Linked DNA regions of Homo sapiens: all the other regions are reported to be linked to region 1. Evidence: microRNA targets listed by miRTarBase, many of them from high-throughput screens and not tested one by one. Region 1 holds a microRNA gene; each other region holds the end of a gene's coding sequence. Distances are from middle to middle.

Region 1 (5,101 bases):
GTTGGCTGAGCTCTTCCCCACCCACAAAGGAGGCTGCAGAAGGCGCCAGGGCTGCTGGAGCTGGAGCCAGGGGTATGTGAGCTATGTTTGCTGGTAGCTGTGTGTGTGCGCGAGTATGTGGAGGAGCGAGGGTGTCCCTGTGGGGGTAGGGAGGATGTGCAGAGGCCACCGACAGCTGCGCCTGGGTGAGGGTGCGTGTGTGTGTCTCCAGGTCTGTCCGTGCAGGTCAATGCTGTCTCATGTGTTGGGAAGATGGGTGCCCCCACTTCTGTGTGTTGAGGGGGGTGGTGCTGTGTGTCACTGTCTGCCCATTTCAGAGTTGCCAGTTGTTTGTGTGTGTGTGTGTGGGTGTCTGTATTGCAGGGCTGTGGCAGTATGTGATGCTGTCCCTGGTTGTATCTGAGTGTGTCAGTGTCGTGCAGCTGTGTGCATCGGTGTCGTTGTGTGTCTGTCAGTGTCTGTGGGTCTGGCCGTCTGTCGCAACCCCTCAGCCCGGCCAGAGGCTTCAGGAGCTGCTGGGGGTGATCCCCAGTGGTCCGCTGTGGTCCTTTATCTCCGGCTCTGCTCTCTGCTGCTGCTCTTTCGCTTGCTGGGTGGCTGGGCTGGTCCTAAGGAGGCCTGGGTCGATGGGCTGCTTGCCTCATAGTCTCAGCCCCTGCTGGCCTCTGCTCTGGGGACTGCAGGGGTCCCTTACAGTCCAGGAGCCTCGAGATGGTGGGCTCCGAGGAGGGCTGAGCCTCAGAATTGGGTGGGGGGGTGAGCCGGGAAGAGCCAGCCCTCCCCTCCTCCTCCTCCTCCTCCCCTCCCACCCACCAATAGGAAGTCGGCTGCTGGTTTCCATGGTGATGGCGCTGGACTGGTGGGCTGAACCGGCTGACAGGGTCGGGGACAGAAGGAAGAGCAGGTTTCTCACGGCATGTCAGCCCAGGGCTCCCACATGTGGCCTCCCACCCTCATCTTCACACATTCTCACACCTTCCGGAGTACAGAGGCGAGTGGGGTGCAGATGGTCCTCCCTACATCGGGTGAGACTGATAGAGACAGAACGGGGGAGGGTATGACAGAGATCCAGCCACAGAGAAGGGCAGAACTAGAAAAGATGGGACTTGAGATGAAACAAAGAGAGAGACAGAAACCAAGAGAAAGAAACCGGGAAGACAAGCAAAGAGACAGGTAGAAATAGACGGAGAATTCCTTCTGCTTCCTCCTGGCAGATTGCACTTGGGGGGCAACCTGGCTGTCCCAGGCCACCAGGGAAGCCCACATGGCCTGTTGGGTTGGCTTTGTCCCGAATTGCCTGGAAGTTCATCTTCTGTCTAGCCTTAGATCTTGTTGCTAAATAATTTGGGGGACAAGGACGTGAGAATCCCCTCAGCCAGGAGTCAGTCTATATGCAGTGGCAGGGGTCTAGACAGAGTCCCCAGAGCCAGGGGTGTTGGGAGAAGCCCCGAGAGGCAGCCCCTCTCCACTCTGAACCCGGGACTCATTAGGCAAGCCAGTTTCAGCCAAGGTCGGGGGCCCTCGTGTGGCACCCCCACAGAATAGCAGCGGTGATACTGAACCCTAGAGCCCCTGACTGTGGGCTCCACCCAGGCAAGAGCCAATGGAACTGGAGGTAGGGGGTGCATGGGGAGGAGTGGACATCTTCACTTCCCTAAAGCAGTGTGTAGGTCAACACGCACGCCACTGCATGATGTGTTGCTGTTTAGGTCAGAGTATATATGCATGCCATTATGCGCATGCGTGTGTATAGTATGCATCTATAGAATAGACATTATCTATTTCTGTATATGTGAAGGGGCCATTGTGTGTATATATGTGTGTGCTATTATGTGTCTATGAGTCACATAATAAAACGTAACAAAAACACATTGGGTGTATCTGTATGTATGTTTCTGTGTCATTGCATCTATGTTTGTTTGCCACTGTGTCTATGTGTGTGCTGTTATGTGCATGGGAGGCTATCATTGCATGAGTTTATAAATTACAACACATCATGATATATATAGATATGGATGCTACTATATGGCACAATGTAGTAATTGATTACACAATATATGACATGCTCATATCGTCATGTAAATATGCATAATGACATGGTTTGATTTATATATATATATCACCATGTATCTATGTATTCTATATTTATCATGATATATGAACATGTCTCTATCTATGTATGTGTATGGAGCCACCGTGTTTATTATGCAAATGTCACTGTATGTGTGTGCTCTTCTATGTGTAAGACACGCCCTATGTTTCTATCATTGCATGTGTGTACTACTGAATATGTATGTGCCCTGGGTGTGTGTAATCCCTGTGTGTGTCATGCCAGTCATGTCACATGTGTCTGTGTGTGTGTTACTGGCACACTGAATGGGGCCTCTGTGTGTAAATGCATTTGCATCTCAGTGTGTGCTTTGTATATGAGTGTCTGTGCCCTTGTCTAAGATGCTGTGTATGTGCCACAGTGGATTTTGCCCAATTTTTATATGACCTAGGACCCCCTAGACTTTCTTAGATTAAAACTGGATGTAGGCAGCTTTCAGTTTGGGTATGTAGGGGGGCAGGATAGGGCCAGAGCTAGGGTAGAAGGTGAGAGGATGCCTTACATCCCTGCCCCTTTCTGCAGATGGCCCAGGCCCTTCTCTCCTCCGGCTGTGGCCTGGCCAGGCCCAGAGCCCTCTTCTGATCTCATAGGCAGGGCCAAACCCGTATCTTCTGGAGGAGCGACAGAGGTTCTCCCTCCCAGCCCTTCTGTGCGCCCATACTGTCCATGTGCCTGCCGCCCGCATTCAGCTCCCCACCCCAGCAACAGAGTCTCAGACAAAAGAGAAGCACAGTCCAGTCTTTATTAGCATTGGGTCCCTGGTCCCACCACCCATTCCCCTCCACGTACCATCCCTTCCCACCCCTTCCTCGTCCTTGACGCTGCGGCTGCATCAGGGTTCCACATGTCCAGCCCTCCCCGCCCCCAAAGACTGCAGGGCAGCAGAGGAGCTGCTGTGGCCTTTCCCCAGCTGTCCGGAACCAGGAAGGGCAGGAAAGCCATGGAGGCCTTTCAGGCATCTGGGCAGGGTAGGGAGGGGCCGTAAGGTGCTCACCTGTCACACGAGGTCCCCGAGCGCCGAGGAAGATGGTGGCGGGCAGCGGGCGGCAGCAGTGGCGTGATCTCCGAAGCCCACAGTACACTCATCCATAAAGTAGGAAACACTACACCCTCCAGTGCTGTTAGTAGTGCTTTCTACTTTATGGGTGACTGCACTGTCTGTCTGTCCGTCGGCGTGTACTCTTCAGGCTGCCCAGGCCTCCTGACTCCTGCTCCAAGAGCCCCCCAGCCCTCCTTGTGGCTTCCTAAGATCCCCCCAACCCTGCCAGGGCCCCCCGAGGGCCCGCCCTGGGCCTTGTGGGCGGTGACTCAGCATGGCGCCAGACTTGCCTCCTCTACCTCCCTCCCCCACTTCCTCTTCAGTTCCCTCTTCCCTTCCCCCTAAAGGCTCCACCCCATCCCCCCAGTTTCAGAGACACTCAGGTAGAGACTAGGGCCTCTGGAGGCCTCACCTTCAGTTCTGTGAACCCCTGGCTGGCCGCTTCCAGCCACGCTAGCCACCCTCCAGCGTCCAAATGAGGCAGCCACAGCTCCCCTGCCAAGGTCTTGGTCTCCAGTCCACCCCAACCGTGAGGTCCTGACTGCCCAGAGCCTCAGTCCCCACCCTTCAGCCTCCCCACCAGCCCAAGATCCTGACCCCCCAGGGCCTAAGTCCCCAGCCTCCCCAACAGCCCAGGGTCCTGACCCCCCAGGGCCTCAGGCCCTGGCCTCCCCACCAGCCCAAGGTCTTGAACACACCAGGGCCTCAATTCCCAGCCTCCCCACCAGCTCAAGGTCCTGACTCCCCCAGAGCCTCAGTCCCAGCCTCCATAGCAGCCCAAGGTCCTGACCCCCCAGGGCCTCAGTCCCCAGCCACTCCACCAGCCCCAAAGTCCTGACTCCCCAGAGCCTTGATTCTCGGCCTCCCCACCAGCCCAAAGTCCTGACTCCCTCACTGCCCTGCTGTTCCCCTGGCAGGAGCCCAAGGCTATCCCAACAAAAATGGTGGCCATGTTGGGCGGAGGAAGAGGCTGGCGCCCCTTGAGACACTGGTCCCACTTCTCAGCCTCTGCGTACCCTCTGCCATCCCCGCCTTACTCTCCAGCCCTCCTCCTTGGACACCTCTTTCCCCGCCTGGGGTCCCGGAGCCATTTTACCTTCCTTCACTAGAGAGGGTTTCAAGGCGCTTTGCCCTGAGCTTCCCGCATGGGGCTTGCACCCAAGCTCCTCGACACCCCCAACGCGCCTCCACCCAGACCAGCAGCCCAAGCCCCTAGAGGCCCCGAGCTGAGGAGCCCCAGTTGGGGCAGCAGTGAAGGTCCGGATCCTTACCTGAGGCTGCAGGGCGGAGGAGAGCTCGCCCTGTGCTCCAGGCTCCGAAGTGGGGTTCCCTTCAGGGAGGGCAGGGCTTATAACCCCGAGGCCACGTGGGCCAGATCTCAGGGCGCCCAACGGTCTCAGAGCGCGCCCCGCCCCCGCCCGCAGGGGATGAGCGCCCTCCCTCCCTCCCTCCCTGGGGAGGACAGACTGACAGGAAACAGAAGGGGGTGGGCCCGCGGGAGGGCTGGGGACCCTCTCTCATGCCCTGGGCAGGTGGCTTCCGGCCCCAGCTGCCCTTCCCCCCGTGGCACCAGCTCCAAGGGATGGCTCAAGAGCCTGGGACTGACTCAGGGCATTGAGGGTGACCCCAGAAGACCAGGGCTCCTCGACAGGGCCCTCGGTGAGTGCCCAAAACGGGGAGTCCAGAATTCCAGCACAAGAAAAGGACCTTCTCTCTGAGCCCCACCGCTGCTGACCTCAGCCCAGAAAACTCCCTTCCCTTCCCAACACTCAGGCCAGGCCCTGGCTCCTCTGCGTGTGCTCCCGAGGGCCATGGAGGTGCTGATGCATGAAGGGCGTCCATGGAGACTGTTGTCCTCAGCACCCCACAAAGCCACCCCTCCTGCAGCCTCAGCCTGCAGGGCACAGTGCGGGGGACACTCTCAGGCCCGGTGGACTGATGGCACTAGGCTA
Region 2 (5,101 bases), not on the chromosome of region 1:
GGTGTTGCTTTGGAGGTTCTGGGTTGGATGCAACAGATGTAAGTTTCCTTTGTAGCTCATCGGCCAGAATTAATCACGTGGGCCCACCCAACCCCAAGGGGGCCAGAAAGTGCCATCTTACTCTGTGCCTAGAAGGCAGAGAATTGGAATTTATTTGGTGAACAGCACTAATGACTTCTACATTTTAACCCAGAAAAGCTTCATTGCTCTCTGAGGTTATTTCCAGCTCTGCCATCCTGTAATACCAGGACTTTGGGAGGCCAAGGCAGGTGGATCACTTGAGGCCAGGAATTCAAGACCAGCCTGGCCAACATAGTGAAACCCTGTCTCTACTAAAAATGCCAAAATTAGCAGGGCATGGTGGCACCCACATGTAACCCCAGCTACGCGGGAGGCTGAGGCAGGAGAATTGCTTGAGCCCTGGGAGGCAGAAGTTGCAGTGAGCCAAGATCATGCCACTACACTCCAGCCTGGGCAACAGAGTTAGACCCTGTCTCAATAAATAAATAAACAAATAAATAAATATGGCAACTCCAGCCAGAAAATTTAATGACTGTACAGCCACGTAAGACTGTCTCTCAGAATGCTTCTTACCACATTCTTTGCTTAGAAAATGCAAGATTGGATTGCTCCTCCAATTGCTAGCAAGCCAGGAGTATGAAATTCAGGAGCTGGGGCAATTGGGAATTAGTGGCTGCATTGCAGTTGTGACCAGAATCATAAAAAAGAGGAACTAAGGAGTTACTGGAAAGATTTTAGGACAATAGTTTTCAAACTCTGGCATAAGAATGAACACTATGCAGCCTTAAAAAAAAAAAGAATGCAGATTTAGATGTTAGATAGGAAAAGACTTCCAAGTAAACAAATGAAGGACACGAACAGATTATACAGTGTGCTACCATTAATGTAAAAAACAAAACAAAACAAACAGGTGGCCTGGGCGCAGTGGCTCATGCCTGTATTGCTAGCACTTTGGGAGGCCAAGGTGGGTGGATGGCTTGAGCTCAGGAATTTGAGACCAAAATGGCCAAGATGGCAAACAACTGTCTACAAAAAATACAAAAATTAACCGCGGTGGTGTTCCAGTTACTCAGGAGGCTAAGGTGATCACTTGAGCCCAAGAGTTCAAGACCAGCCTGGACAAATAGCGAAACCCCACCTCCACAAAAAAAAAAAAAAAAAAATACAAAAATTAGCCAGAAATGGTGGTGTATGCCTGGTCCCAGCTACCAGGGAGGCTGAGGTGGGAGGATCACCTGACACCAGGAAGTCAAGGCTGCAGTGAGTGGTCACAACACTGCATTCCAGCCTGTGAGACACAGAGACCCTGTCTCACCAAAAACAAAAAAAAGTGGAAGCCGTTCAAACACATTAGTATTTGTAAGGATGTATAAGAAACTTCTAGTTTCCTGAGAGGGGAACTGGGAAGCTGGGGAGAGATGAAGGATCACTTTCGTGTCATTTATAAATCTTACTCATTGAAAACAATCGACTTCCCGATGCAATGTAGTATCCCAGAACAGAAAAAGGGCCTTAGTGGGGAAACTGGTGAAAGCAGAGAAAAGTCTAGTTGGTAGTGTTGTACCAATGTTACATTTCTTGTTTTGGCAAATGTACGAAATGTAGTTTTCGTGGTTGTTTCCCAGTTCATAATTCTGTCCTATACATTTCTTCTCCCTCCTCTGTGTGGAACTCACACAGAAAACCTTGAACATCTTCCATTGTTTCCTGTGCCTAGCATGCCTCTCCTGCTCTTCCTGACCTCGGAAGCTGTGCTCCTCTTTCAAGGCCAAGCTCTGAAAGAGTTACTTGCTCTGGAAAGCTTTCCTAGACCTCCCCCTCAAGTGTTCTCCTGGGACATTCTATCTTTATTAGTGCTAGGGACACATGGCTTTGTTTGATTTCTACCAACTAGGTTGCCCAGAAAGTGGACTCCAAGATGAAAACTAGATGCACGTTTTTTAGGGATTAACACTTGTGGAAGAGGAGGAATGCAAGGCTGGGACGGGGGAGGAGGTGGGCTGCGTGATGTAATCCTAACAAAAGCCTCAGCAGACCCCACAAGCTCAGAAGCCACCATGTCCCTCAAAGTTGTCCCAAATTGGGGTAAGAGAAATAGCGACCTGAGATTTCCAGCCCATTACTCACTAGATGTAGGCTACCCAGGGAAAAGGGCATGACTTTGGCTAACGCAGCTCTCCTCTGAAAAGGCACTGCCCAGAGGGCTAACCAGCTGAAGGGTGTTTGTCAGCAACACTTCTAGCAGCTGAGGCAGAAAGGCTTCAATCTGGAAGGAGGGTGGGGTATCACATCTCCTCTATGTCATCCCTCACCCTGCAACTGTAATCGCTATATTCCCAGTGCAAGGCCTAGAAAACAATGTTCCAATTGGAAAGACTGAAGGTGCTTTGGCTCTCTGAAGGCAGAGGCCTGGACCACAGGATTACATGTGGTTTCTTCCCACACTAAGAACCAAGTGTGTTTCTTCCTCACCCGGTTCCCAACAGCAGAGAGAGAAAGCTTCCCTTTGATTAGAGACTAAGAGCCTCAGAAACCGTTAAGATGTTCACCCTCCATTTGACAGTGAGAACCATCTGGGAGACAGCAGATTTCATTCTTAAAGGACTAACATTTCTCAATAACCTTTTAGGTCTTTCGTCTTTTCAAGCAAATGAATACTTTTATTAACATGGTAAGTTTTTGTTTGTTTTAACATGGTAGGGTTCTGACCTCAAATATTTGTTAGGTCTGCTACTCAAATGAACTTACAGCTGGACAACGTATGAACCTTGAAGATGCCTCTTCTAGTCCAGTTTAGGGTCCAATGCAGACAGTTCCATACTGTCATCCCCAAGCCCCTCAAGGGCCTTTGCCAATCTTTCATTTTATGCCAAGTCCTCTAAAACGCATCAGGGTATTACATCAACTTGTACAGAATATCAAGATCTTATCTTCTATTTTAGGTTCCATGTCAAATAAAGCTGAGTTAGGTTGTCCAAACAAACTCACCAGACAGGTTACATAAGATAGTGTACCACAACAAATTTAAATTTTGAACAAAACACATCTCTCCTCCTTTGGTCTCACACAGAAATTAAAGTCTCCAAATACAGACAATACTATCCATTCTCCAGCTCTTCTCCAGATTCACGAGTCCCAGCCAGGTCGGCCCATCCACACTCCCCGTTGAAGTCTGGTCCTTTCTTCAGTAGTTGCTGCATGGAGTCGTCTTCCAGAATTAATGCAGCTCCTTCAGCACCTCCAGAGCTGGAGAACTCCAACTGTGAGTCTCATGTGTCACACACAGACCCAAAGTTCCAGGGAGCTATCAGGTCACACAAGAAATAGCAAAGCACCTCAAAAATTTAGAAATAACCACCAAAGCCCGGGAACAAATGTGACTGCTGCAAGAGCTTACAATCTAGGCCCTAATTCCTGTATGTGAGAGCATTTTCAAACAAAATTACTTCCCAAACAAAAACACGTTAACAATCGAAACTCATATTGAGGTCATCAACCACAGACCATAGCAGAAAACGTAGTGTTAAGTGAGACAGAGCATAGACAGGAAAAAAGAGAAAACAAAAGGCTCTCTGGTTTCGGCTTCTCCAGGGTGTCAGCCAATCTCCACCAGTTGACCAGAATCCATTGGCTGGAAACCTAAAGCACAATGGGAAGAAATTCATCATCGAGAGGTTAATCCCAGGCACAACGACCCCCAAACCCTCACGAACGCCACTGTGCAGGACGCCACCTCTTCTGGCCACCACCTGACTCACTCCAGTCTCTAGCAACGTTGACTTGTCCAACGTCTTCCCCGAAAATCCTCTATTTCCACCCCCGCTTGCTGGACGGCCCGGGACCTTGTCCGTTTCTGTTTCCTTGGCGACTCTGAGATTTATGACCCTTCCACTGAACACGCATCACGCCCAAACCCGGCCACTCTGATTATCCCACGCCGCCACCGTCAAAAAACAAAACACGAAGACGGGGCCCAGATCGGCCCTGACCCGAGCACGCCTTTATTCTCCCGCCCCACCCCCGATTCCGGTGCATCTCGATGAAATCATCGCTCTCGAAGAGCGGCCAAGCTGGGGCCGCTCCTCGGCCTGGCGCGGGTGCCCGACTTACCGCCGACCGCGCTCACGACGACTCGCTCTTCTCTATCCGCCGGACCAGCTCCACCAGCATCTCTGCCATCTTCGCAATCTCCTTGGCCTTCTCCTCGGCCTTCTCGCACCTCTTGGCCGCCCGGCCCTCGGCCGCGTCGCCCGGGTTCTGGAGGTGGTTGAGGGCGCTCTCCTCCGAGGCCTCCACCTGCGTTTTGATCTGGATGAGCATATTGTCCATCTCCCACAGCTTGCTCCGGTTCCGCAGGTACGCCCGCCCGTGCTCGCGCGTCAGCGACGCGATGTCCTCGCGCATCTCGTTGATGACCGGGAGCAGAAACTGCTCGAAATCCTCCTCGGGCTCCAGCACCTCCACTTCCTCCGGTTCCGCCAGCTCGACGATGTCCAGGGGCCGCATCTCTTCCCACTGCCTCGGAACCGCAATAGCGATGTCTGTTGGAGAGAGAAAACCGACACTCGCTATGCTTAGCAATAGAGAGCCCGAATATTCCTGAAAACTTTTACCCTTTTTCAACTTTTCTTCTCAGAGAAGCCACGGACAAGCGACTTACGCGCAGAGTAACGGCGAACAAAATGGAGTCCCGGCCGTCAACCAGCGCTCTGCGCGTTGCGGCCCCTTTCACGACACAGCCGGGCCTCTTTACGGTCAGGGGGGCGAGCTGCGGGCGCGCGCACGTCTAGAAAGAGAGGCACCGGCGGCGGCGTCGCGGCCGCACGGACGCGCACGCAGGCACGCGCAGGTACGGGACCGCACGCTCTCGCTCGTTCCTGCTTTCCCGTTACCTCTGTGCGTCACCCCTGTTTTACCCTGTGTTTGGAGGGTGGCCTCTTCTGGGTGTTTCCCTCCGATAGGGCTTCTTGAGCACGCGAGTTTACATTTTTTAAAAAGGCCTCCCGCACTTCCCAGGCGCGGTGGCTCACGCCTGTAATCTCAGCACGTTGGGAGGCGAGGTGGGTGGATGGCTTGAGGT
Region 3 (5,101 bases), 17 Mb from region 1:
TTTATACCCCCTACCTACTTAAAGCCAATAATTAAAGTTTTTAAAGGATAAATAAATAAGAAAGGATAAGATGTGCCTAAAAAAGAAGAACTTAAAAAGAATAAGCCATTTAGAGATAAGGAAGAAATATTTACATTAAAAGACTAGAATGGAATCGTTGGCACAATTATGCACTAACTACACTTGTTCTTTTCAGAAACTTAAGCAAAATAAAAACCCAATGTTTTATGGAATTCCTGTCCCTCCCTCCCTTCCTTCCTTCCTTCCTTCCTTCCTTCCTTCCTTCCTTCCTTCCTTCCTTTCTTTCTTTCCTTTCTTTCTTTCCTTCCTTCCTTCCTTCCTTCTTTTTTCTTTCTTTCTTTCTTTTTCTTTCTTCTCTAAATATTGTATACTGAGAATTTTGCTGGATGCTGGAATAACAAAATAACAAACGACATGTTTTGCAATTGTTCTACTGTTTTACATATATTCGCTCAATTACTAGTCCCAACAATCCAGTATGGTAAATTCTATTATAATCCTCCCTTCACAGATGAGAAACTTAAGGCACAGGTGGGATTCAAGCCAGTAAGCAGGGGAAATGTAATTTTATTTCAGCCAGCCCAGCACTGGGTCCATGTTTTTAATCACTATACACACAACCTCTCTGCAAAATCAGATATGAAAGGAATTTTCTCTATCCTCATGTTGCTTTTGATGCAGTAAAATTTATGAATTTTTTTCTTTGACAGCTCCTGGGTATGTGTCATATTTTAAAAGGCCTTTCCAGTTATAAATTTACATAAGCATTATCCCATAATTTCTGTTAACTTCAAGGTTTCATGTTTTATATTTTAAAATATTTTACCTACTAGGAATTTATACAGATAAAAATATGAGGTTTAAATGTTTTATAATCAGATGTGACCAAGGCTCAACATCATTTATTAAATAATACATCTTTCCATTACTGAGTTAAAGTGCCACCTTTTCATATAATAAATTCTTTTGTGTACGTTAGTCTATTTCTGGACTTGATTTTCAATTCACTAATGATTTTTCATGTGCTAGTATCACAGTCATCAATGTATGGTATTAACATGCTTCTAATGGTTATCAAGTTCAAGTCTGCCTTGATAGGTTATGGCAATATGCTAGTGAACTCATATATCTGTGTTGCAAAATTGTATATGTATACTGCGTTCCTTGCCATGAAAATGTGAATTGCACCTGTCTGGGCTCTGAAACTGGCATCGAAAAGAATACACTAGCTGAGTCTGCAGTGGCGTATGAGTCTTACTAGGTTTGTTGAGTTTCCTGTAAAATTCTGACTTAGGTGGTGCAGCTGAAACAATTGGTGGAACCAACTTGTTTAATCACCAAGCTTGTTGATTAACCTCTTCCTTACTCACTGGCCAGATGGGACTGTTATAAGGGAGTTCATGGGAATTAAAACTCTTATTTCAGTTACTTCTTTAATCAAAACAGGCATCTATTGTTGCCTTTCTGGAGTTCTATCTTGCTTAGTTTTACTAGCTAGAAAGGCTTGAGCAATTCCAAAGCTATATATTTAGCATGGGCAAATAGTACTGAGAGACTTTGAAGTGAATGAAACATCAACTAAGTCAATGTTTCATTCACTTAAAATCCATCTCTACTGTGCATTTAGATAAAGCTGATGTGACCACAGAATAATAACTGCAGTCACACTTTCCCATTCATAAATTTATGTCTACCTTGGGTTTCACCACAATGTCTTCCATATCATCTTTGGACCCTTCAGAGCACCATAACTCTCTCCAAAGCCAATGACTGTACTTGAGTGTCTGTGCATACTTATTCTAAGAAGTTTCGCATGCCACCCTTGGGACATTTCACCCAAATTATTGCATAGGCCTTCAGACCCGGGGTACCTGCTCCTTGTTATTGTGAGCCCTGGGTACTGAGCTTTCCCTTGTTGCTTTCCCTGAACTCTAGCTACACCTTTGCAAATAGTCTCTTTATTACGCAGATACACTGTGTCATCTCATTCCTGCTGTGGCCCAGTTCTTGTGGACACAGGAAATTACAAGCCTCATATACTTTAATACTGAAAAGACCATATAAAACCTATAGTCTTTGATTTCACTCTAGCTAATAAAGCATAATGTTAAAACCAAAGCCTGCATCCTGTAATGAGCAGTTGTCAAAGAAAAACATATGAGAGGATAAAAGGTTTGTTAATTCTGATGTATGAAATGACAAGTCTGTACTCTGTAGAATAATTTAGAGTGAATGGAAAAGGCTGAAGCTGAAAGTGTCTGCAAGGCATTTTTATGATATGCTAAGACCATAACGCCTAACTTAGGCTGGAGTGAAGCCCACGTAATGTTAACTTCTATTCATGCAGTCGCTTGACAACTTAAAACTTCTTTATTTTTACATTTCAGAAATAATAATTAGCTCTTAGTTACATTTCTTTGGAAATATAACACAGCTAATAAATAAAATTCTGATTTATAGAAATTTTGGATTTAAAGCAGTTTTAATATACTTTGGATTATTAGCTGAAATATAAACCCTTATATTTATATAAATAAGATATTTTGCACATATTGTGACACATTTTTTCATCTACATAGAATAACACTTGTTTGAGTTTTGATGATGAGAAAACTGAGTCTCAAGGAAAAGTCCCACCCATGTTCTCTTAAGACAAAGCAAGGTGATTAAAGCCCAAAACAAAGGAGTAAAACTATCAAGAAAATGAAAAAACCTCAGTAACATTAGGGGCTAAAATTATAAAGGAGTTTCAGTCTGGAAATACTAAGACTTTGAGCATCTATTAATTAAAAGATGTAAAACTTTTATGAGAAAACTGCCACAGATGTCATAAATTTCCCGAAATCTTGACTTAGAAGGTAGACTGTGTTCTGAAAGATCATTTTATGTTAAGAGAGGAAAAAAGGAAGGAAGGAAGGAAGGAGTGAGGGAGGAAGGAAGGAAGGAAGGAAGGAAGGAAGGAAGGAAGGAAGGAAAGAAGGAAGGAAGGAAGGAAGGCAGGTAGGCAGGCAAGGGGAGGGGAGGTGGAGGGAAGGTAAAGGGATTAGAAGGGGAGGGAGGGGGAAGTAAGGAAACAAGAAAAAAGTACTTGAGCTAGGGAAAACACTCAAAATTTCCACAACAAATAATGGAACATACTGGAAGTAGAAATACAGTCAGACAAAATGTAGATGACTTCATGATGTTCAACTTGCTGGAGTTTTTAAGGGACACTTGAGGCATATACCAAAACTTAATTTTGAGTTGTAGAAGACAGCGCAACAATGATACAAATTTTCTTGCTGTTCTGTCAAAAAGAAAATTATGCTAAGATATTATTCTAGCCCAGGGTATTGTTTCAATCATAGTAACAGCAGAAATTGTATTTATTTATTTATTTATTTATTTATTTATTTATTTATTTATTGAGACAGAGTTGCTCTGTCACCCAGGCTGGAGTGCAGTGACATGATCTCGGCTCACTGCAACCTCCTCCTCCTGGGTTCAAGTGATTCACCTGCTTCAGCCTCCCAAGTAGCTGGGACTACAGGTGTGCACCAACACGCCCAACTAATTTTTGTACTTTCAGTAGAGAAGGGATTTCACTATGTTGCCCACACTGGTCTCGAATTCCTGGCCTCAAGTGTTCCACCCACTCAGCCTCCCAAAGTGCTGGGATTGCAAATGTGAGCCACCACGCTCGGCCAGAAACTGTATCCATTAAGAGCCTATACTGCATTATGTACCAGGCCCTGTGGTGAGTATATTACATGGGTTATGTCTCTTAACATTTAAAGAATGTAATGCATTATCTCTATTCACAGAGAAAGAAAACTGAGGCCTGAGGAGGTTAAAAAACTTGCCCCATGCCACGCAACAAATACCTAGGGGAGTCGTGATTCCAATGCAGGGAACATGAATCAAGAGCCCAGGCTCTTAAACATGCTCTCCTGCATTTGAAGAGAGATGGCCCTTGATGTGAACTGACAGGTAAAGACACACACACACACACACACACACGCACAATGAGATCACTAACAAATCAGAAGATTTCAATATTAGGGAAGTGGCTGTTTATTAATACATGAAAACAATATTATATGAGATCATCACAGTTAGTGTCCCCTTCGAATGAAGACACTGCTCATCTAAAAATAACTGCATTGGGGCCTGGCATAACATATTTTAATGAATGTGATTGTCTGTCATTTCCTAGAAGAGCTGAATGTCCACTCTGAATGCCACATGAGACAAACTGGCAGGGAAGTGTTCATTTTTCCAGTGACTGGCTGGCTACAGTGCATTTTAAATGACTAATGAAGACATTCATAGTATGACAAATATCACAAGGAGACATTAGCAGCAAGAGGAGGCACAGCACAAGGGGCGGGGGCAGGTGGAGATGACACAGGTTGGGCGATAGCAAGTGGTGTGGCAGGAGACTCGGCCACAGACTGGACGCACGCAGCAGCAGGGGCGGCAGCAGCTGGATTCACAGCAAGAGGGGTGGCAGCAGCTGGAGATGCAGCAGCTGGGACGGCAGCAAGTGGGCTGGCAGCACACAGACTGGCAGCACTGGGGTCTGCAGCAGCTGGACACACAGCAGCTGGGGCAGCAGCAGGTGGTCCTGCAGCAGGTGGTCCTGCAGCAGGTGGTCTGGCAGCAGCAGGGGCGGCAGCAGCTGGATTCACAGCAATAGGGGCGGCAGCAGCTGGAGATGCAGCAGCTAGGGTGGCAGCAGGTGGGCTGGTAGCACACAGACTGGCAGCACTGGGGCTTGCAGCAGCTGGGGCGGCAGCAGGTGGTCCTGCAGCAGGTGGTCTGGCAGCAGCTGGGGCGGCAGCAGTTCTCCAGGCCACAGCTCTGCTCAGAGCTGACAGAGCCACAACAGGAGCTGACCATGGTGTCAGAGGGTGGAGGTTCTGGGTGGATTTCTAGAAGAATGAGGTTCTCAAGTTTGGAAGTGTCCTTGGGCCACAGCCTCTTATATACTGCCCAGCTGTCTTGTTGGTACTACATTTTCCTTGTTTTTGTTTACTTAATAACTAAGTGATTATCAGATTACACAATAATGTTTGCCCATTTAATGGTTTAAACTTGT
Region 4 (5,101 bases), 9.0 Mb from region 1:
ACTGAGTCTACTCAGATTCTATTCATTCCCTAGACTATCAGTAAAATAAGTACTTATTATAGGAAGTCAGCAGTTGCTAACTCTTTTTTTTTTTTTTTTTTTTTTTTTGAGGCAGAGTCTCACCTTGTCGCCCAGGTGGGAGTGCATTGGTGCGATCTCAGCTCACTTCAACCTCTACCTCCCAGGGTTCAGGCGATTCTCCTGCCTCAGCCTCCTGAGTAGCTGGGACTACAGGCGTGTGCCACCATGCCTGGCTAATTTTGGTATTTTTAGTAGAGATGGGGTTTCACCATGTTGCTCAGGCTGGTCTTGAACTCCTGACCTCAAGTGATTCACCCAATTCAGCCTCCCAAAGTGCTGGGATTACAGGTGTGAGCCACCACACCCAGCTGAGTGTTACTAACTCTTAAGAATGAATTCCCCTGCATATTCTTGGATGAAGAGTTCAGAAAATGCTTTTCTGAAGTTTTGTTTATTGTCTGTAATTTATCCTGTCTTAATCCAATTTATCTTTCTCTCTTGCAGGAGTCCGAAGCCTTTCTCTCAAATCTAGTAGTTAACAAGACCATCTTTGCTAAAGTAGACAGATTAGCAGGAATTATCAACTTCCAGAGACCCAAGGATCCAAATAATTTATTAAATGACTGGTCTCAGAAACTGAACTCATTAATGTCTCTGGTTAACAAAACTACGCATCTCATAGCCAAAGAGGAGATGATACATAATCTACAATAAGGGTCTTAGTGCTTTAGAAAAAAGTTAAAATTGGAAGTCATTAAAAAAAGACTGTTATAATGGTGTATATGTTGGGGTTTTTTTTCTAAGCTTCTTTGTCTTAAATTTTAAAATAGTGAATATGTTTGAGACTCCCTTTGACCTTTCAGTTCCCCAAGTTCATTGTTAACTTTGCATTTGCAATTGGTGCAAAAATACAGATTTCTGTCGTCTGAATACACAAAAAGTTGTGTCATAACTTACCCAGATATGTTTTTCTATCATTTGAAACCTTTTTAGCTACTGTTTGTTTTCATTCAACTAACAAACATATTCCAATAATAAAAGCAGTATATACATATTTCCTTTCTACAGTTACCTCTGATTCTCAACATTTTGTGGGGTAGTGATTTGGCAAGTGTTTTTTAAATAAAACAAATCTCATTGTAAAGCTATCAGTCATTTAGTAGAATAGAAAAGCAACATAGAGCATACAAGAACATTTGGGATAGAGTTGTGATTTGTGAAGAATTTGTACTTTGATATTGTGGCGGAAAGTCTAGACTGAGTGTGTATGCTGGTAAACTGTAGACTTTTTTTTTTTTTTTTTTGAGTCCGGCTGGTTCCAATCACAGTAGCTTGATTGCTTTCAGCCCTCATCCTCTCACTTGATCAGTTGTTCAACAGAATCAGCTGACATAATTGACACAGTTTATTGGGTGTTAAGTCCGCTCTATAGGGATAGTGACTACTTTTTTTTTTTTTTTTTTTTTGCTCTTCTTCCTCTCCCCTTTCTTTATATGGGTTTAAATTTAACATAAAGTTGTTTTTATAAGGCTTATTTGTGGCTTTAACTTGTAAGTCTGATTACATCATTATTGTTCCAAATTCATTATCTCTGTAGGAACTTTTAGTTCCATTATATGAACACTGGATAACCTAATTTTTTTTAATGCTTTAAAAAAATGGCAAAAAGACGTCAGGCCACCCTCATAGTAAGTGGTGTAGTATTAAAATATTTTCACGGAATTAAAAGTAGCTTGCTGTCAAAGAAACACCTGAGATGAATTGGTGTGAACGAATTTTGCAAGTTTAATTTGATTTATTTCAGAGAAAATAGAAAAAACAATGTTAGAAGGTTATTTAAAATGATACTTAAATAAAGAAAGTGTGAGGTCTACTTTAAAAAAATTCAAATGAAGAGAAAAAGAAAAACAGCATTCTAGAAATGGCATTTCTCCTAATTAATTTTCCACTTAATGGAAGATTATCAATTGTCCTATTTTATGATCCCAGGACTGAAGACAGTTGTGGGATATCTGTCATATTTATCCTGTGAGTCATTGTGAATAATGACATACAGTACTGAAGTAATCTGATTTTATTCTTTGGAAATTCAATGCATTGGTCACACTAATAACATCAACATCTGCTATCACTTATCTTTTTAAAACTAACCAAAAAAGGCCGGGTGCAGTGGATCCCAGCACTTTGGGAGGCCAAGGCGGGTGGATCATCTAAGGTCAGGATTTCGAGACTAGCCTGGCCAACATGGCAAAACCCTGTCTCTACTAAAAAAAATACAAAAATTTGCCGGGCGTGGTGGCGTGTGCCTGTAGTCCCAGTTACTTGGGAGGCTGAGGTGGGAGAATTCCTTGAAGCCAGGAGGCGGAGGTTGCAGTGAGCCAAGATCACACCATTGCACTCCAGCCTGGGTGACAGAGTGAGACTCCGTCTCAAAAAAAAAAAAACAAAACTGGAAAGTTCAGAAACAGAAGTTCACACTAACAGAGTATGGTTTTAATTTTCCTTTGAATGAAAAGGATAGAAGATAAAATTGTGTATTGTTAACATGTAAATAAAATTGGAGCTAATTTGAAACTAGCTTCTCAATAACTTCATCTTTCTAGAGACTCATTACCTGTGGGCTTGTCAAACCTGGACTATTTGGCCAAATAGGTTGCTATAGAGATTGCAAGTGTTCCTCCTCTTTATTTTTTTCATATTTTTTGAGACGGAGTTTCACTCTTGTTGCCCAGGCTGGATTGCAGTGTCACGATCTCGGCTCACTGCAACCTTTGCCTCCCATATTCAAGCAGTTCTCCTGCCTCAACCTCCCAAGTAGCTGGGATTATAGGCGCCTGCCACCACACCTAGCTAATTTTTGTGTTTTTAGTAGAGATGGTTTCATCATGTTGGCCGGGCTGGTCTCAAACTCCTGACCTCAGGTGATCCACCCGCCTTGGCTGCCCAAAGTGCTGGGATTACAGGCATGAGCCACTGCACCCAACTCCTCTTTCGTCTTTCTTTAACACACACTAGGCTCTTTGTGTATTATGATTCAGTGCTATTTGTAACTGTGTCCCAGTGACCAAATTGCACTCGACTCGATCAGCTGTTCATCCATTTCGTGTTTTTTCCTGTCAAACATTAATCCAGCAAATATATGAGGTATTTACCAATTTATTTTCTTAGTATTACAAAATAATTCATTAGCATAAAGTACAATAGTGAAATATTTGAGTTGTTCGGAACCTCAATTAATCCTGTTTTACATTTCAGACCTAAAGCTGGCAATCAGGAGAAGAAGCACTTTGTTTTAAATGTGGAGAAGATAACACTTGATTCCATTTCATTGTCATTAGTGTATTAACCAGCAGGAGAGGTGATGAGCCATTTTTCAAATGAAATACCTTTTATTTCCATATAATTTTTTTATTTTAGAGTTCAATAGCTGTTTCTATGATTATCCTCAATTTCCATATGTTACTGAATCTGAAAAACATCTTTAAAATTCAAACAGTTCCATTTTCTCTCTTGTAAGTGTTAAATGTGATAAAAGTACATATTTTAAATTGTTTTCAGCTCTTGGATATAGCAGCAATAAAAACACTAATTTGTGGGTATTTAAGAAAACCTGGAGAATAAACTCATACTTTAAAAGATCACTTCTCTTTTCAGTTCTCATTGTCTGAAACAAAAAGCCATAATTTTCATTTTTACCCCAAATCATCTCTCTCTAAACCTACTTTTTTGTTTTGTCTTTTAAGACTTTATTATATTTTTAGAGCAATTTTAGATTCACAGCAAAAGTAAGTGGAAGGTACAGAAATTTCCCATATCCTCCTTGCTCTCACACCTCCCTCATTGTCAACATCCCCCACAGAGTGGCACATTTTTTACAGCTAATGAACCTGTTTTGACACCATTATCACCCAAAGTCCGTAGTTTACGGTTCATTCTTGTACATTCTGTGTGTTTGGACAAATGTATAATGGCATGTATCCACCATTATACTACCATAATACTTCACCGCCCCACAGTTCTCTGCCAGTTCATATCTTCCTGCAAATCCCCTGACAATTGTGAGTCTACGGTTTCCATAGTTTTTCCCTTTTTCAGAATGTCATATAGTTGGAATCACAGTAGGTAGCCTTTTTTTTTAGATCGGCTTCTTTCACTTAGTAATACGCATTTCCATTTCCTCCACATCTTTTCATGGCTTGATAGCTTATTTCTCTTTAGTGCTGAGTAATATTCCATTGTCTGGTTGTACCACAGTTTATCCATTCAGCTCCTGAGGGACACCTTGCTTATACATTTTGGCAATTACAAATAAAACTAAACATCTGTGTGCAGGTTTTTGTGTGGACCAAGTTTTCAAATCCTTTGGATGAATCTGAACCTGCCTTTTAAGCGGTGACAAAACACCTTGCACATGTTTCGAAAGCCAGCTGACGGACTTTGCCCCTCCTAAACTCCCGATTTGGGGTTGGTGGCTTAGGCCGTGCTTTATTGGGCACCTGACAAGTGGTTCTTCATCTCAAGGCCCATCAGAATATGCGCGGGGCTTGTTACACACAGATGCTGGGCTCCACCCCCAGATTCACACTCAGTCGGGATGGAGCGGGGCCCACGAATTTTAATTTCTAACAAGTTCTCAGTACCCGAACTACTGGTCCATGGACCGCACTTTGAGAACCACTCTTCTTGACAACATGGGTAGTAAGGACTAGAAAAGAACTGAAATGTGTTGGTGTTTTAGATGTTTAGGGGAAAAAAACATGGATATCAGTTAAGGTACATGTGGCGGTAAAGCTACAGCGAGATGCTCATCCGGAGCCCGTTGTTTTAGGAGTTTAGTGGTTTGAAAGTCTGCTTCCATACTGCCTTCTGTGATGCAGAGAAATGGTCTTGGCATTTTTGAGAGGATATTAAACAATTTTCCTAACTTAGAGCTTTATTTTTTTTTATTTTTTATTGTTTTTATTTTTTGAGACGGAGTCTCGCTCTGTTGCCCAGGCTGGAGTGCGGTGGCGCAACCTCGGCTCACTGCAAGCTCCGCCTCCCAGGTTCACGCCATTCTCCTGCCTCAGCCTTCCGAGTA
Region 5 (5,101 bases), not on the chromosome of region 1:
TCCCTGGGACCCCTTCTGTTTCTCCCCCCAGAATTCTGTCCCTTTCTCCCTGGAACCCCTTACCTTTCTCCCCGCCAGAACCCTTCCCCTGTGGAATCCCTCCCCGCTCTGGAAACCCTCCCCTTCCTTCCCCACCCCCACCCCCGGAATTCCTCCCCTTTCTCCCCCTCAGAACCTCTCCCCTTTTTCTGCCTACCAACCCCTCCCCTTTCTGCCCCCCACCCCCTGTGGAAACCCTCCCCATTCTTCCCCCTGGAAACCCTCGCCTTCCTCCCACTCAGAACCTCTCCCCTTTCCCTACCCCTTGGAACCCCTCCCTTTTTCCCCCTACCAACCCCTCCCCTTTCTCCCCCCAGAACCCTGTTGCTGCTGAGTAGCTGCTGCCACCCATCCTGATATCCATGCTTGTTTTCAGGCAACTGGTTTCCGGAGCTGAGACACTGAATCTTGTTGCCGAAATCCTTAAATCTATAGACAGAATTTCTGAAGTTAAAGACGAGGAGGAAGACTCTTGAGGACCCCTGGGTGTTCTCAGCATGAAGCTCCGTGTATACCCTGAGGTCACCACCGCTCGATCTAAATGTGCAGTTGTGTCCTTAAATATGCAGTCTTCACCCAGAGTAAAGTGTTGATCGCAAGAGTCCAGTGTCGTGCCCTCAGCCAGTTCTTGGCCACCACAATGGGAGCAGCCCTGGCCGAGTTGTCTCTGTGGTTTCTATGCAGCCCTTCTTGGCGAAATTCCTGCGATCTTATAGATTCTAATGAGCTCTTGGAAGACATTGTCATAAAAGCCAGTGATTTTAAGAAAAAGAGTGGTTCTGGAATCAATGTTTTCCAGTCCCATCCCAGAACATCAGTTGTAAGATAAGTACAATTGGTTGTCCTTGATTTCATAAGTAGAACAAACACTAAATGTGCCTCTGAGATGGCCACCCCGGGCAGGGACCTGTGCCTTCCGCCGATGCTCAGGGCTCCCTCTGGCTCCCGGGTCACTCTTGTGGCCCCAGTGGGTGGTCCCTGCAGTCATGGCCTGAGTGCGCAGGGGCCACCGCGTGGCTGCTGCTGTCCTCCTCCGGGACCCACGGGGACCAAGGTCACACGTTCCGTGCTGTGAAGCTGTCCAGATGTGCCTCTTTGGCTGGGGGTTCTGGTGGACGTTTCAAGTGGCATTTTGTACAATGCAGGTTAGAATTCAGGAATTTCAAGTATGTGCCCGGGTCTGTCAGGTCCCAGTTGCCTTTCTGACGGCCCCCCTCAGAGGGACGGCGATGAGCACTAAATGCTTTTTTGACTATTTTCCTATAGATTTTTTTTAAAACTTTTTTTTCCTCCTGTTCCAATTGATAGCTTTCTTATTTAATAAATTCTGTAGTTCACCGCACTGTCTCTTCTCTGCTGACTTAGCCAGTCCTTGGAGAACGCCGTGGGCTTCCACACCTCACTTGCTCTTGCCCTAACTGGTGCCTTGTGCTGGCAGATTCTCTCCAGGTCCTCAGCCCTTGGGGTTAGGGGCAGACTCAGACCACTGCTGCCTGGGCCTGACCACTGGGACCCACACGTGATGGACGTGTGAGTCACGCAGCTGCACGTTTCAGAGCTGGACAGACTGGATTCTAGCATTGGATCATCTTTTCGGATCATGTGGTTGAATTTTTCAAACAAGGCGTCTGAATTGCTAGACCCCTAGCCTTAGCTACAGGTGAAGGCCAGAGCTTTCCAGCAGTCACTGTGGAGCGGTCCTGCTGCGTAGCCCTATGCGCCTCCTGCTCCTGCTGGTTGGTGAAAGCAGGCTCTGGATTCTGTTGGCAGAGCTGACTTGAGACAGGGTGCTGTGGTTGGGAAGTGCCGGAATGAGGTTCTGAGTGTATAGGCAGCTCTGGGAGCCCTGTAGCAGCAGGATGGGGGCATCTGGGGAGGATGCCTCAGGCCACAGGCCTTCCCTGAGGCCCTTTGGGAGAGACAGCATTTGATGGGGTGGGGGTCACAAAGGCCAGATCGCCAGGCGGGTCCCATCCACCAGATGCGTGTGAAGTGGGGTGGTCCCCTGGCCCTCATGCCAGCAGCTCATGGAGCAGGTGGGGCCCAGGGAAGCGCGGTGGGGATGGGCATGTGGGTTTTGCGCACCCCTCTCTTTTGATGTCTGTGTTTGAAGCGTTTGATAGTAAGAAGTTTAAAAATACAATTTGTGGCGCGGTATTTAGTGCCTGCCTTCTGCCTCCAGATTTCAAGCCCGATGCAGGGACTGAAACGAGGCGCTCGAGGAGCCCCCAGCCGCCTGGTTCCATCCCCTCCATCTGTTTCTTGCCAATCCCTAGCTCCCAGTTTGGCCTCACCTGGGCCTAGCCCTTTGCCACCAAAAGCCCACCTCCTAGGTAGGCAGGGCAAACCCTCTTTATAGTTCTCCAGCTGATGCCCCTAGCTCACCCCAGGCTGGAGTGGAGGCCCCCTCAACTGGCTGGGCCCAGGATGTCTTTGCAGCACCGATACTTAGAAGCTCTCAGGAGCCAGGAACTGTAGGCCCCTGCCCAGCTCCCGGCCGAGTTAGCCCTGGCACGTTCCTGAAGGAATGAATGCCCACTTAGGGGAGGGCCCCGGGGCAGCTCTCCAGGCCAGGAGACCCCAGAGGGTGTGCACAGGTGACCAGGGAAGCGAGTTTGTGTGGTGCGGGCCCCCACCCTCTGGCCTCAGTCTCCTGCACGTGCCTGGAGATCGGCCTGGCCTCGGCGATCCTGAGCATGCAGGGCAGGCTGGGGAAAAAGCCTTTCACGTAGACTTTCTCATCCGTTGCTTAACCAAACCCCAACATGTCCGTTAACAGAGGATGAAACAAGCACAGAGAGGTCCAGCGATGGCCGAAGGTCACAGCCAGTAAGGGCCGGTCTTCCGGATCGTGACCAGGTGGCCGGGTGCCTGTCCCTGTCTGTCCCCTGCCTTGAGGTCCCGCGTCCACCCGCGCCCCTCCAGAGCGCGCGGAGGCGGCCCCCAGGGCGGCCGCGCGAGGGCAGCATCGAGCCGTTCGCCTCTCTAGTCCCGGCAGGCCGCAGCGGCCGTCCCGGCGTGCCCCGCGCCTCAGGAGGCGGGACTTCCGGCGCGCGGCGCTCTTGTTCTGCAGCCGCCGGAAGCGTCGAGTCTGCAGTCGCCCGGGCGACGGCGGGGTCCGCGCGGCCAGGTAAGGTGTGCGCCCAGCAGGTGAGGCGCGGGTGGCGTCGGCAGCTTCAGGGCTCTCCCCGTGGAGGGGGCGCTGTCCCGAGGAGCGGATAGCCGAGGCCCGGGACGGGGGCGGGGCAGCGCCCAAAGTCGGGGAAACTGAGGCCCGGCGTGGCCCCCGTCCGGCCGAGCCTGGGCGCGCGGGGATTCTGGCCCTGGGAGCCCCTCGGCTGGGAGCGGGCTGCGGGCTCCGAGGAGGCTCCGGCGGGGCGGCCCCGGCTGCAGGGCGCCCGCGTGCGTCTCGGGGACTGCGCCGGCGATTCCGCGGTGGCCGAGCCTCGGAGGGGGTTTCCCCAGTTCACGCAGCGAGCAGGAGGCGGAACTGGGCCTGGGCCGGGTCTGTCTCCCAAGCCAGTGCCTAAACGCCCATCGTCCTGGCGCATCCTGGGGTTCCCTGGGCCCAGCCGAGTCTGGGTGGCGTCCCCGCAGCTGGGGCTGGAGGGACCGCCTGCTGCGCTCCGTCTTGGTGGGCAGCCCTCATGACCAGCCCTTGGGAGAGGGGTGCGGGGAGAGGGACAGCCCCTGATGTCAGTGGCTCAGCACGTGTGACTTTGACCTCCTTCCTGCTGATCATTGCTCACCTGAGCGACACGGGGAGGGGGAGGCAGCAGCCTCGTGTGAGGCTTCCAGAGGAAAGCGTCTCCGCCGGCCCGGAGGCGCTGAACCAGCCTGCGGTCGCTGCCAGCTCTGCCTCTGGCCGGCTGTTAACTGAGTTTACAGGTTCACAAGCATTTCGGGCATAAACAAGGGGCTTTGTGAAGGAGTGAGGGGACCTGGGCTGCTGATGCGGCTAACGGTGCTCGCGGGTGGATGCTTTGGTTTTGTTCCAGTTGGGCAGGGCCCCAGTCAGCCTCCAGCAGGGAGAGCCACGCCAAGGACGGGGGAGGGCGTTTCTCTTTGTTGTTGGGTGTTTTGGGCTCCCGGGTCTGTGCTAGTGATTCCTTTAGATTTTCTCTGCTAATGTTTCATTCTCCCACTCTCTCTCTAGCGTCCTTCTCCCTTCAGACTTCCTGGACCACAGTTCCTAAGAAAAAAGCTTGACAAACATTTGTTAGTGTCAGGCACTGCCACGTTCCAGGCGTTGTTCTGGATGTACAGAGAACAGCCAGCCTTCCCTTTGGGAGCTTCCTTCCCAACCATGCTGTTAGTGCCTGCCACCTGGGCAGTCTCAGTGTGTGTCTCTGTGAACGTTTCTCAAATGCCCTCTGTGGTCCGGCTCTGTGTCATGGGAGAGCAGGATGGCCAAAGTGGGTCACGGGCTGTGTCCTTGCCCTGTAGTGACTTTGCCACTGCACCCCACACCTTCTACGCTGGGTGGCCAGTTTCCATGTGGCTTGGTGTGGGAGCAGAGACGGGACAGTGGGGCCTGTCCTTGTTCATCCACTCCCTGCCTGTGCTGGTTGCAGCCTCAGAGCAGGCGGGAGATGTTCTTGGGGCTTAGGCTCCTGGCAGAGCACATAGCAGGAGTTTGTGGGGTCTGAGGTTCCTGTCCCAGGGTTCCCCGATTCTGTGCCTGGCCTATTAATCTTTCTCTGGGGAGCCCAGTGCCCACTGCCGAGCAGGCTCCTGCCATCCCCCATGGGCGGGTGTGTCTGAAGGAGAATGGGATCCCGGCACGGTCTTGGTTTCTAACATCTCGGGGTGTGTTTTGGAGGCAGGCGGGAGTCATGGATGTAGATGCTGAAAGAGAGAAGATAACACAGGAGATCAAGGAGCTGGAAAGGATTTTGGATCCCGGCTCCTCGGGCTCCCACGTGGAGATCTCAGAATCAAGTCTCGAGTCAGATTCTGAAGCAGGTAAGCCCCTTGTACCTAGCCTCCTGGGGTCCTGGTAAGAACAGCTGGTCTGCCTCCTGGGTTCCTCTCAGGCACATTAGGGAGTGATGGTAGCCGG

The links. Region 1 holds the annotated microRNA hsa-miR-142-3p (UGUAGUGUUUCCUACUUUAUGGA, at 3,196-3,218, opposite strand). A microRNA usually pairs through its seed, bases 2 to 8, with sites in the 3' UTR of a target mRNA and lowers its output. Matches are read on the target gene's strand: a 7mer-m8 pairs with bases 2 to 8, a 7mer-A1 pairs with bases 2 to 7 and ends in A, and an 8mer does both.
Region 2: miRTarBase lists MRFAP1 as a target of hsa-miR-142-3p. Seed matches in the 3' UTR shown: 7mer-m8 at 3,539-3,545.
Region 3: the mRNA of KRTAP4-5 is a reported target of hsa-miR-142-3p. The part of its 3' UTR that is shown has no 7-base or 8-base seed match.
Region 4: the mRNA of PSMD12 is a reported target of hsa-miR-142-3p. The part of its 3' UTR that is shown has no 7-base or 8-base seed match.
Region 5: miRTarBase lists ENTR1 as a target of hsa-miR-142-3p. The part of its 3' UTR that is shown has no 7-base or 8-base seed match.

The regions. Positions count from the first base shown.
Region 1 is chr17:58,328,050-58,333,150 of GRCh38, forward strand. It overlaps MIR142 (microRNA 142), which reads right to left and starts at 3,269; the gene lies at 3,183-3,269. It overlaps TSPOAP1 (TSPO associated protein 1), which reads right to left and starts at 746. Exons shown (of 32, transcript NM_004758.4): 1 at 1-746. It overlaps TSPOAP1-AS1 (TSPOAP1, SUPT4H1 and RNF43 antisense RNA 1), which reads left to right. Exons shown (of 5, transcript NR_038410.1): 2 at 1-72. MIR142HG (MIR142 host genes) reads right to left here and starts at 4,471. Exons shown (of 1, transcript NR_186557.1): 1 at 2,839-4,471. RefSeq lists enhancers at 619-688, 1,219-1,388, 1,489-1,568, 3,359-3,498, 4,299-4,368 and 1 more and a silencer at 4,479-4,788.
Region 2 is chr4:6,640,289-6,645,389 of GRCh38, reverse strand. MRFAP1 (Morf4 family associated protein 1) reads right to left here and starts at 4,705. Exons shown (of 2, transcript NM_033296.3): 1 at 4,132-4,705; 2 at 2,661-3,660. The coding sequence starts at 4,527. The coding sequence ends at 4,144. It overlaps LOC124900653 (a long non-coding RNA gene), which reads left to right and starts at 4,769. Exons shown (of 2, transcript XR_007058007.1): 1 at 4,769-4,870. RefSeq lists a silencer at 3,668-3,737.
Region 3 is chr17:41,144,866-41,149,966 of GRCh38, forward strand. KRTAP4-5 (keratin associated protein 4-5) reads right to left here and starts at 4,960. Exons shown (of 1, transcript NM_033188.4): 1 at 4,059-4,960. The coding sequence starts at 4,902. The coding sequence ends at 4,357.
Region 4 is chr17:67,336,477-67,341,577 of GRCh38, reverse strand. PSMD12 (proteasome 26S subunit, non-ATPase 12) reads left to right here. Exons shown (of 11, transcript NM_002816.5): 11 at 526-3,662. The coding sequence ends at 735. Among named protein-coding and RNA genes, the nearest start is that of PSMD12, 28 kb to the left of the region's middle.
Region 5 is chr9:136,398,202-136,403,302 of GRCh38, reverse strand. ENTR1 (endosome associated trafficking regulator 1) reads left to right here. Exons shown (of 10, transcript NM_001039707.2): 10 at 416-1,381. The coding sequence ends at 515. It overlaps SNAPC4 (small nuclear RNA activating complex polypeptide 4), which reads left to right and starts at 3,133. Exons shown (of 24, transcript NM_003086.4): 1 at 3,133-3,169; 2 at 4,866-5,004. The coding sequence starts at 4,875. RefSeq lists silencers at 2,686-2,735, 2,886-3,095, 3,166-3,295, 3,366-3,475 and enhancers at 1,984-2,920, 4,650-5,101.